Linked DNA regions of Homo sapiens. The protein of the gene in region 2 purifies or fractionates together with the protein of the main gene of each other region. This does not show direct contact. Each region holds a gene or a part of one and is shown on either strand. Other genes may lie near its edges.

Evidence for each region.
Region 1: the proteins of SLC16A4 (region 2) and HIGD1A purify together in Homo sapiens (affinity purification with mass spectrometry; one large-scale study listed by BioGRID and IntAct). This does not show direct contact.
Region 3: the proteins of SLC16A4 (region 2) and DIPK2A purify together in Homo sapiens (affinity purification with mass spectrometry; one large-scale study listed by BioGRID and IntAct). This does not show direct contact.

Annotation. Positions count from the first base shown.
Region 1 is NC_000003.12:42,787,440-42,791,094, reverse strand, and holds part of HIGD1A (HIG1 domain family member 1A, mitochondrial), read left to right. Parts: intron 1-3,655. UniProt on the Homo sapiens protein: Proposed subunit of cytochrome c oxidase (COX, complex IV), which is the terminal component of the mitochondrial respiratory chain that catalyzes the reduction of oxygen to water. May play a role in the assembly of respiratory supercomplexes.
Region 2 is NC_000001.11:110,380,872-110,384,526, reverse strand, and holds part of SLC16A4 (monocarboxylate transporter 5), read left to right. Parts: intron 1-1,560; coding exon 1,561-1,693; intron 1,694-2,731; coding exon 2,732-2,875; intron 2,876-3,383; coding exon 3,384-3,545; intron 3,546-3,655. UniProt on the Homo sapiens protein: Proton-linked monocarboxylate transporter.
Region 3 is NC_000003.12:143,981,672-143,985,326, forward strand, and holds part of DIPK2A (divergent protein kinase domain 2A isoform a precursor), read left to right. Parts: intron 1-3,655. UniProt on the Homo sapiens protein: May play a role in cardiomyocyte proliferation through paracrine signaling and activation of the PPI3K-AKT-CDK7 signaling cascade.

The DNA.
Region 1 (3,655 bases), on a different chromosome or scaffold from region 2:
TACTCAACTACTGTATGTATTTTGTTGCTTTGATCTGTCTGCCAGAAACTTAGTGGTATGTTTAGATACCTCATAAGCCAGTACACTTTCACTATTCTACCTTCTTAAAAAGAGCTTGCCTGTTTACTTTGAAATTAGCTTGTTAATTGCAGCTACTCAGCAGGCCAAGGCAGGAGCGTCACTTGAGCCCAGGAGTTCAGGGCTGTAGTGTATAATGATCATGCCTGCGAATACCCACTGAACTCTAGTCTGGGAAACATAGGAAGACGCCGTGTCTGAAAAAAAGAGAGAAAAGAAAAAGAAACTGGCTTGCCCAGTCCAAAACGGGAAAAATGTCTCATTTTTACATTTGGATTACATTGAATTTATAAATTTGGAGAGAATGGAAATTTTAGAATGTGGTGCATCTACTGATTTTCATTCAAACCTTTTGTGTCCTTAAATATGATTTTATTGTTTTCTCTAGGTCTAGAAATTTAATTTCTCTAGATATGCTTTTTAATGTATTCATCAAAGTAATCTTTTTTCTTATTGGTTCTAGTTGTTTTTCTTTCTTTCTTTCGAGACGGAGTCTTGCTCTGTCGCTCAGGCTGGAGTGCAGTGGCACAATCTCAGCTTACTGCAACCTCCGCCTCCCGGGTTCAAGCAATTCTTGTGCCTCAGCCTCCCGAGTAGCTGGTATTACAGGCGCCTGCCACCATACCTGGCTAATTTTTGTAGTTTTAGTAGAGACAGGGTTTTGCCATGTTGGCCAGGTTGGTCTCGAATTCCTGACCTCAAATGATCCACCTGCCTCAGCCTCCCAAAGTACTGGGATTACAGGCGTGAGCCACTGCACCTGGCCTCTAGTTGTGTTTCATTTGATTCTCTTGGATTTCCTATACACACAGTTAGATGATCTGCAAACCAGTAGAGTTTCTTCCTAATTATGCGTATAGTTTTTTTTATGTGATTTAAAATTGTTTAGGATATCCAGGCAACAACAGCAGTATTCACATGTATCCCTGTCTTATTCTGATCTTTAAAGGGAACTTTTTTTTCTTATCTCTTTTTCGTTTTTTAATAAAAAATAAGGCTGAGCACTTTGGCTCATTCCTGTAATCCCAGTGCTTTGCGGGGCTGAGGCAGGAGGATCACTTGAGCCTAGGAGTTCAAGACAGCCTGGGCAACACAGTGAGACCCTGTCTCTACAAAAAAAATTTAAAAATTAGCTGGGCATGGTGCCACACGCCTGTAGTCCCAGCTACTTGGGAGGCTGAGATGGGAGTTTGCTTGAGCCTGGGAGGTCGAAGCTGTGGTGAACCATGATCATGCCACTACAGCCTGGGTGACAGAGCAAGACCCTGTCTCTAAATAAATAAATAAATAGATAAAAATTAAAAATGGAATATTTATAGTGTTTTAACACTAAGTACAATTTGTATTTGCTTTTGGTGTCTGAACTATATTCTAATTTACTTTTACTATTCAGATGTTCACATAGTTTCATCTTTCGTGAATCTTAAGAGATTTTTCGTTTTTTTTTTTGTTCTTGGATGTTCTTCCAGTGAATTCTTTTTTTTAATTTATTTTTTATTAAAATTTTTTTTTTTTGTAGACACAGGTCTCACTCTGTTGCCCATGCTGGTCTCAAACCCTTGGCCTCAAGCAATCCTCCTACCTCAGCCTCCCAAAGTGCTAGGATTACAGGGATGAGCCACTGCTCCTGGCCAAGATTTTCTTATGTAAAAGCAATGGTTAATTCCCAAAGTAGGCCAGGCACAGTGGTTCACACCTATAATCCCAGCACTTTTTTGGGAGGCTGAGGCAGGCAGATCATGAGGTCAGGAGTTCGAGACCAGCCTGACCAATGTGGGGAAACCCCATCTCTACTAAAAATACAAAAATTAGCCGGGTGTGGTTGGCACATTCCTGTAATCCCAGCTACTCGGGAAGCTGGGGCAGGAGAATCACTTGAACTCAGGAGTCGGAGGTTGCAGTGAGCGGAGATTGCACCACTGCACTCCAGCCTGGGTGACAGAACAAGACTCCGTCTCAAAAAAAAAAAAAAAAAAAATTCCCAAAGTAAAAACCTAATGATCATGGTTGATAATATTATTCTAATACATTTTAAAGTTGATAAGCTAGTATTTGGTTTAGGAATTTTATATCTATGTTTATAATTTATATTGCTTTGTAATTCTCTTCTCATGGCTTTTTTTTTTATTTTTTAGTTTTTGGAGACAGTCCCGCTCTGTCGCCCAGGCTGGAGTGCAGTGGCAGGATCTCGGCTCACTGCAGCCTCTGCCTCCTGGGTTCAAGTGATTCTCCTACCTCAGCTTCCTGAGTAGCTGGGACTACTCCCGCCACCACACCAGGCTGATTTTTGTGTTTTTAGTAGAGACGGGGTTTCACCATTTTGGCCAGGCTAGTCTCGAACTCCTGTTTTCAAGTGATTCACCTGCCTCGGCCTCCCAAAGTGCTTGGATTACAGGTGTGAGCCACTGCACCCAGCCTCTTATGTTATCTTAATTTTGTTTTGGTATCAGGGATTTGTTTTCTTGGAAAATATATTGGAAAAAAATGTATTGCTATGTTTTTAATGCCCTGGAATACTTTAAATAACATGAATTGAGAATGCCCTTATAATTTTTATTAGACCTTGTTAATGAAACTATTGGGGTCTTTATCTTTTGGGGATAAAGCATGGATTGCCCATTTAATTCTTTCTATGGTTATTGGTATAGAAAGGTTTTCTACAACTTCTTGAATCAAATTTAGGAATTTGTATTCTCCTCAGAAATCATTCATTTCACCTAGATTTTCAAATTTAATTGGCAAAGAGCAATCATCTCTTATTTTTAAAAATCTCTTTATCACTTGTGATTATATCCACTTCCTCATTCCTAATGTCGTATGTTTATTTTCTCTTTGATCAGACTTCCTAGAGGTTTTACAATTTTATTTGTTCTAAGAACCAGTACTGTTTTTATTTTTCAAATAATGTTTGATAGCTTCCTAATCTCTCAGTTTTTACTTTAACCTCCAAATCTAGTTATTGGTGCTCAGCTTCTCAGTGGTTAGAGGTGGGGGTATGTGTGTGGTTGTTTTACGTTTTGATTGCTAAGTTTTGGCCTTATGGTAGTCATCCAGGAAGAAGGACTTTTTGGAAGTTGGAATTTTCTTTGTGGCCTAATAAATGATTGGTTTTGTCAAAGCTTCATAGACATTTTAAAGAATGTGGGATCTCTGTTTTAAATTAAAATATTAAATTTTATTTATTTTTAAGAATTTAAGTAAGTTTATTTAATGGTGCCGTGCAATTCTGTAGCTTTAGTTTGGGGCTTCTTATTCTGTTGTTTTCTGAAAGAGACAGATTTTCCCATTTTGTTGTCTTCTAATAGAGCTAATCTTGTGTTCCTAACAATTTTTGCTCCATTTATTTATTTTGCTGCTATATTAGATTATTTTAAAGTTTTATGACTTTAAAAATTTATATATATATATATATATATATATATTTTTGAGATGGAGTCTCGCTCTGTCGCCCAGGCTGGAGTGCAGTGGTGTGATCTCGGCTCACTGCAACCTCCGCCTCCCAGGTTCAAGCATTCTCCTGCCTCAGCCTCCCAAGTAGCTGGGATTACAGGCGCATGCCACCATGCCCGGCTAATTT
Region 2 (3,655 bases):
GCCCCCCGGCTAACTAGAATTCTGAGAAATAAAAGTTAATACTCCACAGAAAGAAAACCTCATCTCCAAAGCAGCAATTCTAGTGGAGTACAGGTAAGGAAGATTAGGTGGGGCAGAAAGAAAAGGATGGGGCCCCTGGCCCAACCTTAAGATGGCCACAAATCCCAGTTAATCCAAAATTAAGCACCCCTTTTCACTCTTGAGTGTCTCAATTTGGATGATACATTTTATGGTCAACCTATTTATATATCTAGTGAAGGAAGGTACTCAGCTCAGCAGCAGAGTTAAATCAAAACTAATCTAAGAACTGACAGGAATAATTATTCCTCTTTGGACAAACACTTTTCTCCCACAAAGGTAACTGGAATTAGCTGTCTTTAACAGATGCTACTGAGGGCAGTAAAAGAGTGCCAGGTCTAGAGTCAGTCTAATCTGGGTTCAAATCTCAGTTCCAGTACCCCTATTTTAAGCAACTTTTTACCTCTCTAAACTTCAATTTCCTGATCTTGGAACTGCTGTTGCAGTTATAACTGAGAAAATTATTACAGTGACAGAGATCTGACCTAACCAACTCCATCCATCCTGCTTCTAACTTCCAAGCTGTCCTTGTTCATTCCCATGCGTAGGCTGAACTAACTTTGGGGGAAACTTAGTTGATAGCTTAACTTTGAAAGAGAAACTAACAGCCGTTTCCAAAAAAAAAAAAAAAAAAAAAAAAAAACCTCCTTTTAACAGCCCTTTCCAAAAAAAAAAAAAAACACTTCCTTCCTGCCTGGGGACTAGATTGCCTTTGTAGGACTAACACATTAGCCATAAGATTAGAAATTATGGTTTAGGAGTCATACAGCTGGAGGCCACAAGACTGACCCTCCCCAAATTGCTCGGGGGATAACATCACTATTGTGAAACCTAAGATCAGTGCTTGAGATAATTTGCAGGCCCTGCATTTGATGGATCAGCTGGCACCACCCAGATTAATAAACTGGCTCATCTGGTTGTGGGTCCCCCTCCACCCTTCCACCCAGAAGTGACTCAGCGCAAAAGGGCAGCTTTGATAGAATTTCATCTCTGACCCAACCAATCAGCACTCCCAACTCACTGGCCTCCCACCCACCAAATTATCCTTAAAAACTCTGATCCCCAAAAGCTCGGGGAAACTGATTGGTCTAATAAACTCCAGTCTCTTGCACAATGGGCTCTGTGGGAATAACTCTTTCTCTATTGCAATTCCTGTCTTGATAAATCAACTGTATCTAGGCAGCAGGCAAGATGAACCCACTGGGTGGTTTATTTGGTATAAATTATTTGGTACACAACATTGGCATGCCTATTCCAAAGCCATGAAATGAGGATTAAATGAGATGTTTCCATTTAAAATGCTTAGCTACTTTAAAAGGAATGACTTCCCCCATAAAATATAAGATGTATAATGAGGCTCAACCAATAAGGCAAACTGGTAAATAGTAGTAAGCTGAGGGAATCATAACTTCTAGTAGCCGTAATTGCCTCTGTAATGGCTCACTTACCACCTGAGTTGGACTCTGGTCTGCTTTGATTTAGGTGAATGTGTTTGTGATGGGGATGACCAAGACTTTTGCAATTTTCTTTGTGGTCTTTCAAGAAGAGTTTGAAGGCACCTCAGAGCAAATTGGTTGGATTGGATCCATCATGTCATCTCTTCGTTTTTGTGCAGGTATAAAGCTGGCAATAAGCTTGCTGTCTAAGGAGAAGAACCACAAAGGGCAATTCCAAGATTCCTATTCAAGACTGAATAGGAATTCAGTTTCTAAAATTAAGGTTCATTTACTGATATGTAACGCTGAGAAAGTAAGGAATTGCAATATTTAGCTTCCACTTGACTTAGTAACAAAGTTGGGAGAATCAGCATTCAAACAAAGAAAGCTGAGGAATTATTAAATGCCATGATTCAGTATTTCATGCATTGCCTTTCCAGTCTGTTAATGCCTTAATATAGGTTCAATGAGTAAGGCCCTCAACCTGGAAGTTAGGCCATGAAGTTCTAGTTATCTAAGTATATTCAAAACAATTTTATTTATTTTTTTTTTTTGAGACACAGTCTCACTCTGTTGCCCAGGTTGGAGTGCAGTGGTGCTATCTCGGCTCACTGCAACCTCTGCCTCCCAGGTTCAAGCAACTCTCCTGCTTCAGCCTCCCAACTAGCTGGGATTACAGGCGCCCGCCACCATGCCTGGCTAATTTTTGTATTTTTAGTAGAGATGGGGTTTCACCATGTTGGCCAGGCTGGTCTCAAACTCCAGACCTCAGGTGATCTGCCCACCTTGGCCTCCCAAAGTATGGGATTAAAGAGCCACGGCGTCCAGCCTCAAAACAAATTATAGAACCAATTTCTTCTCCTTTTATTTGGAGCTGTAACAGGGTGGAAGAGCAGATAAGTGATTCAACCTTATTCTAGTCATTGACCACTAGATGCAATCTTTTTGTGGAGGTTCTATAATGCATTTCAAATCACCTCCCCTCCAAACCTTACTTACAATCAACATTTCCTTTTAAACTCCCCTTCCAAAAACTAAAATAGTGTGGCACTAGTGATATTAAGAAACCCGATATGAAAATCTTTTTTGAAGAATACGTAATACTTCAAAGTAAACAGTCCTCTTGCTTTCCTTGTCATTCATTTAAATCGCCATCAGAGGATAAGGGATGCCAGATCATTATTTACCTAAGAATTGCCTTTCTTTCTTCTCTTAAGGTCCCCTGGTTGCTATTATTTGTGACATACTTGGAGAGAAAACTACCTCCATTCTTGGGGCTTTCGTTGTTACTGGTGGATATCTGATCAGCAGCTGGGCCACAAGTATTCCTTTTCTTTGTGTGACTATGGGACTTCTACCCGGTGAGTCCATTGTAATTATGTGACCATAGAAGGCCAGGAGTGGTGGCTCACACTTGTAATCCTAGCACTTTGGGAGGCCAAAGTGGGTGGATCGCTTGAGTCCAGTTCGAGACCAGCCTGGGCAACATGGTGAAACCCTGTCTCTACTAAAAATACAAAAATTAGCCAGGCCAGTGGTGGCACATGCCTGTAGTCCCAGCTATTTGGGAAGCTGAGGTGGGAGGATTGCTTGAGCCCAGGAAGCTGAGGCTGTTGTGAGCCGAGATTGTGCCACTGCACTCCAGTCTGGGTGACAAAGTGAGACCCTGTCTCAAAATATGTGTGTGTGTGTGTGTATGTATATATGCATCCATCCATAGAAGATAGAAGATGGAACAGGACTCTTCCCTTCTACTGTTCCTGGGTCCAAAAGGCCTAGCTGTATTATCTCGGATCCAGGAGATTATCTTTTCTGTTACCAAGCCACTTAATGTAAGAGTGATTCTAAACTATTACGTTTTTCTTTTAGGTTTGGGTTCTGCTTTCTTATACCAAGTGGCTGCTGTGGTAACTACCAAATACTTCAAAAAACGATTGGCTCTTTCTACAGCTATTGCCCGTTCTGGGATGGGACTGACTTTTCTTTTGGCACCCTTTACAAAATTCCTGATAGATCTGTATGACTGGACAGGTACGTCATTCTAAGTTTATTTACTATCAACTGTGCAAGATTTAGCGTTCAGCTTTCTCCCTTTGAGAAATGGAAGTTAAGACTTTCAGAGCAATCGATTTCACAAGGTA
Region 3 (3,655 bases), on a different chromosome or scaffold from region 2:
AACAAAAACAGAAACAAAAACAAAACAAAAAATAAACCCAAAAAAACCACCCCAAACTAATAAAGTTTAACTTCAACAAAAGGATATTGGCTTGAGGGAGGTTGTGTTAATCTATCTTTTGAATTCATTTTGACTGTTGTAAAGATAATTATAGCTTGGCCTAAATTTGCTTCTTACTACCTGTGTGACTTTAGGTAAATCGTTTAACACTGTACTAATAAGATTGAACTGGATTTACAATTGAGGTACAGTTAAACTCTAAATTTCTTGGATTTTACATTTCCTTTATTGATCACATAAAATATTTGATTTTGATCTAGGTAGATTATTAGGTTATTTCAGCATTTGGAATTTGTTTTGTGCTTATCAGTAATAAAAAACAAGTTAAAATACTGTGTTTTTGTGTGTACACGTTTCCAATTTTTAAGTTTCTTGCATTTTTAGTGCTTGTGGATGCTCTCTACGTTTCTTATAGCATCAGTGCTTTTAAGAGTTTAGTGACTAGTCTATATATTTCATTATGAATTAGAAATTACTAGAGGTCAGTAAAGATGTTTCTCTAATTTAGTGGTTCTTCACTCTATTTGGAAGGGGGTTCATTATTTGTAGATGCCGTTTTAGTAGGTGTTTAGGAGGTGCATGAAGATAAGCATATCTTTTGATGAATGTCTGGAATTGTTACTTAAAATTTTTAAATAGAGAAAGCCCATCAGACTAACAGCAGATCTCTCTGCAGAAACCCTGTAAGCCAGAAGAGAGTGGGGACCAATATTCAACATTCTTAAAGGAAAGAATTTTCAACCTAGAATTTCATATCCAGCCAAATTAAGCTTCATAAGCGAAGGAGAAATAAAATCCTTTCCAGACAAGCAAATGCTGAGAGATTTTGTCACCACCAGGCCTGCCTTACAAGACCTCCTGAAGGAAGCCCTGAATATGGAAAGGAAAAAACAGTACAAGCCATTGCAAAAACATACCAATTGTAAAGATGATTGACACTATGAAGAAACAGCATCAACTAATGAGCAAAATAACCAGCTAGCATCATAATGACAGGATCAAATTCACACATAACAATATTAACCTTAAATGTAAATTGGCTAAATGTCCCAATTAAAAGACACAGACTGGCAAATTGGATAGTTAGAACCCACCAGTGTGCTGTATTCAGGAGACCCATCTCACATGCAAAGACACACATGAAACATTTACCAAGCAAATGGAAAGCAAAAAAAACACAAAAAAAACAAAAGGGGTTGCAATCCTAGTCTCTGATAAAACAGACTTTAAACCAACAAAGATCATAAAAGACAAGGGCATTACATAATGGTAAACGGATCAATGCAACAAGAAGAGCTAACTATATATACATGCTCCCAGGATCAGGAACACCCAGTTTCATAAAGTAAGTTCTTAGAGACCTACAAAGAGACTTAGACTCCCACACAATAATAGTGGGAGACTTTAACACCCCATTGTCAATATTAGACAAACGAGACAGAAAATTAGCAAAGATATTCAGGACTTGAACTCAGCTCTGGACCAAGTGGACCTAATAGACATCTACAGAACTCTCCACCCCAAATCAACAGAATACACATTCTTCTCAGCATCATATTGCACTTATTCTAAAATAGTAAAACACTCCTCAGCAAATGCAAAAGAAAATCATAACAGTCTCTCAGACCACAATTCTAATTGCAGTCAAATTAGAATTCAGAATTAAGAAACTCACTCAAAATTGCACAACTACATGGAAACTGAACAGCCTGCTCCAGAATGACTACTGGGTAAATGATAAAATTAAGGCAGAAGTAAATAAGTTATTTGAAACCAATGAGAACAAAGACACAACATATCAGAATCTATGGGACACAGCTAAAGCTGTGTTTAGAGGAAAATCTATAGCATTAAATGCCCACAGGAGAAAACGAGAAAGGTGTAAAATCGACATCCTAACATCACAATTAAAAGAACTGGAGAAGCAACAACAAACAAATTCTAAAGCTAGCAGAAGACAAGAAATAACTAAAATCAGAGCAGAACTGAAGGAGATAGAGACACGAAAAACCCTTAAAAAAATCAATGAATCCAGGAGCTGGTTTTTTGAAAAGATTAGAAAAACCAGACCACTAGCAATACAAACTGTTTTGTATTGGGAAGGCTGTTTCATCTACATTTTGTATTGGGAAGGCTGTTTCATCTACATTTTGTATTGGGAAGGCTGTTTCATCTACATTGAAAATCTGTTGATTAGTCACTTCCATTAATTATCTTAGCTAGATCTTCTGGATAATTTGCTATGGTTTCTGTATCAGCACTTGCTGCTTCTCCTTGCGCTTTTATCTTACGGTGATGAATTCATTCCTTAAACTGCATTAACCAGCCTCTGCTAGCTTCAAACTTTTCTTCTGAACTCTGAGCCTTCATAGAATTGAGGAGAGTTGGGTTCTTGTTCTGGATTGGGTATTGGCTTAAGGGAATGTTGTGACTGATTTGATCTTTTATCCAGATCACTAAAACATTCTCCCTATTAGCAGTAAGGCTGTTTTGCTTTCTTAACATTTGTGTGTTCACTGGCGTAGCACTTCTGATTTCTTTTGATAATATTTCCCTTGCATTCACAGCTTGGCTGTTTGGGTTAAGAAGCCTAGCTTTCTGCCTATCTCGGTTTTAGATGTGCCTTCCTCACTATGCCTACCTATTGTTTCTAGCTTTTGATTTCAAATGAGATACCTGTAACTGTTTTCATTTGCACACTTAGAGGCCATAGTAGGATTAATAGGCTTAATTTCAGTATTGTTGTGTCTCAGGGAACAGGGAGGCCTGAGGAGAGGCCTCCCTGTTCCCTGGGGATGGCTAGTTGGTGGAGCAGTCAGAACACACACATTTATTGATTCCTTTTTTTCTCTAATGTTCATTTTCTAGTTACATATTTTAGCAGTGGAAGGTATCTTAGATAAAGCCTGTTATTTTACTTAAGGTGAAAATGAGTGTTCATGGTCATGGAACACGTTTTTTTTTGATTTAGGATGATAATCCTGCCAGTAGTTTTAAAATCCATTAGAAAACCTTGCTAAGATAAGAGTAATTTTGAGGCTAGGCCAAGGAGAACAGAAAATATGGCTGGGAAAGGGAAACAAGATGAACTTGGACCAGATGTGCTCAGAGTGGAGGTTGCATTAATAGGATATCAGTTTGTCCCTTCCCAACCTTTGGATGTAGGGTAAAAGACATCTCTCAAGAATCTTTCCCTGAATTCCACCCCATCTGCTTCCTGACTAGGAAAGGCCCCTACTAAATGATCCCCTGGGACCTGCACCACTGCTTAGTAACTAACACTTTTCATATTCATAATTATTTGTTTGGTGACTGCATGCTCTTCTAAAATAAAAGCCCATGGCTAAATGGAGACTGTTTGGTTCACCCTTAATTGCCACCGTAACACAGTGCCTGTTGCCTGGTAAATAACTGCTGGTTAATAGGCTGCAGTGCTATCAGTTTAAATAAAAGGATTGGTTGATTACATTTACACAAGTGAAGAAGATAAGGGAAAGCATAAATACTTTTAGATTTGGTAATAAAGACAGTGTCTTCCCTCTTATTGATCATTTTGGTTCTTAGATTTTGATAAGCAAGACTTGTCATCCTATTT